Homo sapiens: one gene and its partner. The protein of the gene in region 1 purifies or fractionates together with the protein of each later gene. This does not show direct contact. Each region holds a gene or a part of one and is shown on either strand. Other genes may lie near its edges.

Region 1 (2,981 bases):
ATTGGGAGAAAAAGTTTTACTACGGTGAAATCTCAATTTATTGTATTCTGGTAGAAAAGTTGATTCACTTAATATTGTTTTCTTCTTGCTAGCCTAGTTTTTCTTTCAATTTTTGAGCAGCTATGGGAACTATTCCTAATAGGCCTTGTAAGCAGACACATAAAGGATGTGGGCAAATATTTCTGTCTCTAAATAAAGGCAAGAAATAAACATAACAAAAGTAGAAATTTTTCAGAAACTGCATTTTTCTAAAGGACAAATGGTGATTGTCTTTCGCTATTCATTGCTGAGTTCATGTACCCTTTTTAAGGGGACATAGTGTGTGCTATTGCTTTCCAGTTTGTAATGTTCACAGTTTGTGTTGCATGATTTAAGCTTTAGCTATATTGTATAAATTTCAATCCTGGTAAAATGACTGTCATTTCATGTCAAAGAGCTTTCCTTTGACATTTAGGCTGTGTATACAAAGGATGAGGTAGACTGGAGGACTGAGCAAATATTTGGTCAATTCATCAGAGTAAATATTCTCAGACTCCACAAAGGAGTTGGAACAATTACCAGTGTCCAAAAATTCAAGCTTTGTTTTCTTCTGGTCCCTGGAAAAGTTTAAGTGAATTCCATGGGCTTCTTGGGAAAATGTCTGGTTGCCCTCTGATGAAGTCCAACCCTCCATAAGTCTGACTAACCCAAACCCCAAATCTTTTATTCATCTATTACCTTACTACATCTTTATTTTTGGTTCTGAGGTATTATCTAGAAAATTCTGCCACTCACCATGATACCTTATACACAGAAAGAATAAAGATTTTAAAGATATTATACACAAGGTTAAAAAAGGGTATACTTTCCTCCTAATAAGCTTGACCAGATTGACTTAATATTTTAGATTAGACATATTAGTCCAACAATGATAATGTCCTCTCCATTATATGTGAAAATAAAGCACTTGACTCAGAAACATTATCTTTAAGTATTTCTCAAGCACAGGTAATGGATTTGTACGGATTCATCCACATTTCTTTTCCTACTTCTTTTGTAACCAAAAGCCAATCTTTGTGATGTATCTAAATAGAGACTCAGGTTATAAGCCATTGCTATGGAAAATAACAAGGTTTGACAAAAAGAGGTAGAATAAATTTTTTTTTAAAAATTTCCAACAATAACTTTTACCCACCCAAATTAAATATTATCTAACTCTAGGATGGCATGGGCTCTTTTAATGACTATCATTTAGAGGGATACCGGTTTGACTAAACACTGTAGCTGAAACGATATTCCAAACTAGTCTCCCTTCATGCAGTATACACAGTCTCAGGGTTAACCCGGGAGAGGAAATTTTAAATGTACAAAGCTGTCATTATCTTAGATCATAACCAGATACTCTTTTCCCCCTGTTTTGGTAAACCACAGGGATGGTATTTCAGATGCACCATTATATACAAAAAAAAAAGTAATATAGATTATTACAGACATTATAATATAGTTCATGAAGAGCCTTTATCAGTCTTCAATGTCTCCGGTGCTGTGGAAAGAAGAACAGAAGCTATAGCATGAAATTTGAAGGATCTTTGAAAACTGACAGATGAAAATATAGAAATGTTAAGAAATGTTAAATTTTACCAACACTAAATTGAGCCTGTTACATCAGATCATTTTAGGTTCCTGAAGATAGAAGTTTTAGTATTTTTAAGCACGTATCAGAATGACTCTTCATAAGAACTAACTTGTTTTCTTTTTTTTTAAGGAGGTAACTATTACTGTTTAGAAATGGCACAACAGTTGTATTCAGCCTGAAAGGTCCTCGCTGGCTTTACATAAATGAAGATGCTTGTGATTCCAGTTTATCTCTGAAACTATTCAACATGGAGTTATTTCAGTTTTGTTTATCAGCAAAGCTTTGTTTACTGAAGGAGCTATTTAATCTATGTTACATTAAAAAAGAAACGCGTGTACATTTTAAAAGCAATGATGTAAACTTTGTTCTTGCATTAGACTGACCAGTTTAAAAATATGAACTAAAACCTAATGGCTAAAGTAACTTGACCATATTTGATGCTTTTCTATGCTCATTTCAACTTGGCTTTTTGTCTTTTAAATTTTTAAAAAATGCAGTAGTGTGTTAGAGACTAGAAAGTTATATGTATGGTTTCCCTGTTCTACTATACATAACGTTAAAGTACACCTTCTTTGTTAAAAATGTACTTGCTAAACTTCAGCGTAAATAAAAACATTTTGACTTTGTCAATTGTCACTGAGTATTTCTTTTCAAACTGCCAACTGCAGTCATTGAAACATATAGTAGAGTCAGTGCAAATCAAAATACGGGAACTAGCCAGATGTTTGCAAATCTTCCTCTAGTTTTGTTATTTTCAAGCAGATAGGAACACAGTTCTTATTTCAGTTCATCTGTTTAAACAGGCTGATATTCCTGTCCTCAATTGTTGTATTGATTCACACTGGATTGCCTTTTCCTAGTTATGTGTGCTTAGTGAACCTGCTTCCAGGAGGAAGGGTTACACTGGGAAGCAGGAAAAATGGGTGCACCAAGAACTAGAAAATATTTTCTGAGTATTTGTTATCATCAAAAGTTTATTCTAGAGTCACCTACACTAAAAAGCAAACAAAAATGGAAGGGGTATATCTTCTCTGGCCCCCCAAAATATCAAGTCTCTTTGTACGTCCAAGTGCCTATCACAGTGTAGTGAAAAACCAAGGCCAGTTATAGCCCTGCCCTACAGTTTATTTAATCTGTGCTCTTACTTTCTCTTGGTTCACTTCTGGTAAAATACTGGAGCTCACTCAAATTCTGGTTGACTATAAAACCTCTCAGGTTTTCCTATGAAGCGGCAGTGACACTCCCACTCCTTGCCTATCTTTTGAAATGTATTGTATCTCACAGTGTTCTAGCTGGTCACCCAATGACTGTAGGTCTTCTACTTTGGAACCATGTTGGTAAATCCACAGATGTTTCTTCTCACTAT
Region 2 (3,929 bases), on another chromosome or scaffold:
CACAGTGCTCCTTCACTCAACTGTGCAAAGCACAAGACACACGAGCAGTCATGGGGGTCCTGACAGAGTCAAGAGACCGCCCGTTTTTTTTTTTTGGTTTTTTTTTTTTTGAGATGGAGTCTTACTCTGTCGCCCAGGCTGGAGTGCAGTGGCGTGATCTCAGCTCACTGCAACCTCCGCCTCCCAGGTTCACACCATTCTCCTGCCTCAGCCTCCCGAGTAGCTGGGACTACAGGCACCCACCACCACACCTGGCTAATTTTTTGTATTTTTAGTAGAGACGGGGTTTCACCGTGTTAGCCAGGATGGTCTTGATCTCCCGACCTCGTGATCCACCTGCCTCGGCCTCCCAAAGTGCTGGGATTACAGGCGTGAGCCACTGCACCTGGCCAAGAGACCCCTTTTGTTTGCTCCTCAAGGTTTCAGGTTTCAAGAACTAAGAGAGGGCAATGTGACATGGCTCACCCTGTAAATCCAACACTTTGGGTGGCTGAGGCAGGAGGATCACTTGAACCGAGGAGTTTGAAACCAGCCTCAGCAACATAGTGAGACCCTGTCTCAACTAAAAAAATTTAAAAATTTTTTAAAATACCCCAGTGTAGTAGCATGCATCTGTAGTCTCAGCTACTGAGGAGGCTGTGGCAGAAGGATTACTTGAATCTGGGAGGTGGAGGCTACAGTGAGCCATGATTGTACTACTACACTCCAGACTGGGCAACAGAATAAGAGACTGTCTCAAAACAAACAAAAAACCAGAAAACATTAAAAAACAAACAAACAAACAGCACTGAGGTTCTTTACCAAAACTCGAGAAGCATCAGGAAGCTTCAGGAGTCTGACTGTCAGCATTTCCCTTTGTGAGTATTTCCCTGGGCTGTTCTATAGTTTGGGTTTAATTTGCTTCCCCTAGAAGGCTGGACTCTAAACACAGCCCTCCAGAGGAGCACAGCTTAGCCTCAGTGGACTTGTTCTTGGCTGTAACTGCCTCGTCTAGATGGCAGGAATCCTCAGGTGGCTGTGGCTGCTATGTGCTGTGAGGCCTTGGCTTGTACAGGGAGCGGGGACACACAGAAAGGACTCTGCTTCTGTTTACCTTTGTAGTCCTGACCCAGTTCCAGGCTGAGGTTATGAGCCTCAGCACATCTAACCCAAGAGCAGCCTCCTGCCCCTGACTCTGTGTGACAATACAGAAGTCACTTAAGTACTGAGCCTCAGTGTATCCATCTGTAAAATGGGAAGAGTGATACTTACCTTTAAGGGTTTCTAAGCAGGTCATGTGAAAGAATTATGGGAAAAGTGCTAAGCACAAGCCTGGTACACAGACGGAAATCTAGGAGAGAACCCACAACCCCTGGTTTCCAAATCCAGTGAGTGTCCAAACCACAAACAAAGAGTTAAATTCAAAAGTGGCAGCAAAAGAGGAAGTGAGCAGAACCAGCCACAGTGACACACGTGCTACAGAGTTCAACAACATCGTCACAGGGCAGTACCTGGAGGACTTGCTCTCCTATAGATCCATGGAAGGCAACTACAGCAGCGCTGGGAAGACAACCAGCAGGGCACAGAGGTGACTGCGAGGCTGGAATGAAGCAACCTGAATTACAGGCAAATCAATACTATTAATGATTATGTATGGTGAAAGTCCATCACAACAGAGTTCAGTGGCCTCTGTCAGTAGTGACATTAATGGGACAGAAATAAAACCCCCAGTCTATAAGACCCAAGAGTAAACAAAACAGGGATATAACGTCCACTCATTGAGGGTCTAGTACAATAATACATAAAAAGTGTTTTATAACGTAAAAGGACTACATAAATATAAGAGATTCTTATAGTGCTGATAATAAATTCCAACTGGAAGCACTAATGGATCTAGGTATGTGTGACTTTAAGAGACATAATGAGGGGAAAATCAAGCACCTTCAAAGCTCAAATGAAGGATTCAAGGAATTTAACTGTCAAGTGAAAGTAATATCAAGTTCCTACATGTTAGTAATGCTGGTAGAAATGCTAGGAATTGGCCGGGCACGGTGGCTCACACCTGTAATCCCAACACTTTGGGAGGCCGAGGCAGGTGAATCACAATGTCAGGAGATTGAGACCATCCTGGCTAACACGGTGAAACCCCATCTCTACTAAAAATACAAAAATTATCCAGGTGTGGTAGCATGCACCTGTAGTCCCAGCTACTCAGGAGGCTGAGGCAGGAGAATCAATCACCTCAACCCGGGAGGCAGAGGTTGCAGTGAGCCGAGATCGTGCCATTGCACTCCAGCCTGGGTGACAGAGTGAGACTCCATCTCAAAAAAAAAAAAAGAAAGAAATGCTAGGAATTGCCTGGTCCAACTCCTTGGCTTTACTGTTGAGGAAATAAGCCTGGCTCAGCAGTTTTTCAGTTGTAACATACTGCAAGTGTTTGGAAAGAGGAAAAAGGAGTGGTACTGGGCGTGTCTGTGGGCTTTCAAGCCCTTTATCATGCCTCTTTGCCAAATGGCCTAGAAGTTTAAAAGCTGAGGTTTTTCTTTGTTGAAGGATAGCCTGTGTTATCTTTGGGTTGGGAACTTATTTTGCAATTTACTTGCAAAATAAGAACAATAAAAGGACTATGAAGAGCTCAGCTACAGCTCTTCTTCCATGCAAAACAGGACACCTCATCACCCAGGCTCCATGCTGGGGTTTGATGGTCTCTAAACCTCCTGAAACTGTCTAAAAATTATTGCATATGTACTAGATACCTAAAATTGTCTGGGGATTACAGAAGAATAACCTTCTGTAAGATTAATCAGCAAATAAGTAGAAGAGGGATAACAGAATTAGAAAATCATTTTGCGACTGCCATTATAATAGCACAAGGATCATCAATAGATGCTAAAACTATTAGGTGAAAAGTTTTGGGGGATGAGATAGTACCCATGGTGCCAAAGCACCAATGAATGGATTACTTCCTGACATACCTTCATAAGGAAGAGATCCAGTGGTTATCTTAACTAAGTGACCAAATCCAGCGTCATCAGCAGACGGGGCAAAGTGGCATGTGCTTTCTGGCATGGCACTATATGAATCACACAACATTACCTATGAAGTGTTTGTGCCAAAAATGTTTGACTTGAATGAATCTAGTCAAGACTTTAGATCTAACTTCCAGTTTATAAAAAATATAAAGGAAAGGAATACTCTGAAGTATGTTATAACTGAAAAAGTACCGATGGAGGAATTAAACCACACCATAAGGAAAGAACCAGATAAATCCAGAATGCTGGACATTGCACATGGCAACTGGCCTAGTCTTTTAAAAAGTCAATGTCATAAAAAAAAACCTTCGAAAGAACTGCTTTTGATTTTTACAGACTAAAGAGAAATAATAACCAAATGCAATACGTGAACCTTGATTGGATCCTGTAAAAAGAAAAAAAAGGTTATAAAAATAGTCTTGGAACTATTGTGGGAAATTTGTAAGTAGGCTGGGTGTTAGATCATATTAAAAAATTATTTCCTCTCTTTCTTTTTTTTTTTTTTTTTTTTGAGACAGGGTCTTACTCTGTCCCCCAGAGTGCAGTGGAACTATCTGGGCTCACTGCAACCTCGGCCTCCCTGGCTCAAGCAATCTTCTCATCTCAGGCTCCCGAGTTGCTGCAACAACAGGTGCATACTACCACACTTGGCTAATTTTTAAAGGTTTTTGTAGAGAAGAGTTGCCACTATATTGCCCAGGCTGGTCTCAAACTCCTAGGCTCAAGCCATCCTCCCACCTCAGCCTCCCAAAGTGCTGGGATTATAGGCATGAGCAACTGCACCATGTCTAAAATTATTTTCTTAATGGTATTTACTGAGGTTATGTATGAGAATGCCTATACTTCTTATTTATTTATTAATATATTTATTTATTTTTGAGATGGAGTTTTTCTCTTGTTGCCCAGGCTGGAGTGCAA

The links.
Region 2: the proteins of DACH2 (region 1) and TRIM26 purify together in Homo sapiens (affinity purification with mass spectrometry; 2 studies listed by BioGRID and IntAct, with this or other methods). This does not show direct contact.

What each region holds. Positions count from the first base shown.
Region 1 is NC_000023.11:86,830,362-86,833,342, forward strand, and holds the end of DACH2 (dachshund homolog 2), read left to right. Parts: intron 1-1,744; coding exon 1,745-1,794; 3' UTR 1,795-2,241; downstream 2,242-2,981. UniProt on the Homo sapiens protein: Transcription factor that is involved in regulation of organogenesis. Seems to be a regulator for SIX1 and SIX6.
Region 2 is NC_000006.12:30,199,545-30,203,473, forward strand, and holds part of TRIM26 (tripartite motif-containing protein 26), read right to left. Parts: intron 1,595-3,929; 5' UTR 1,491-1,594; intron 1-1,490.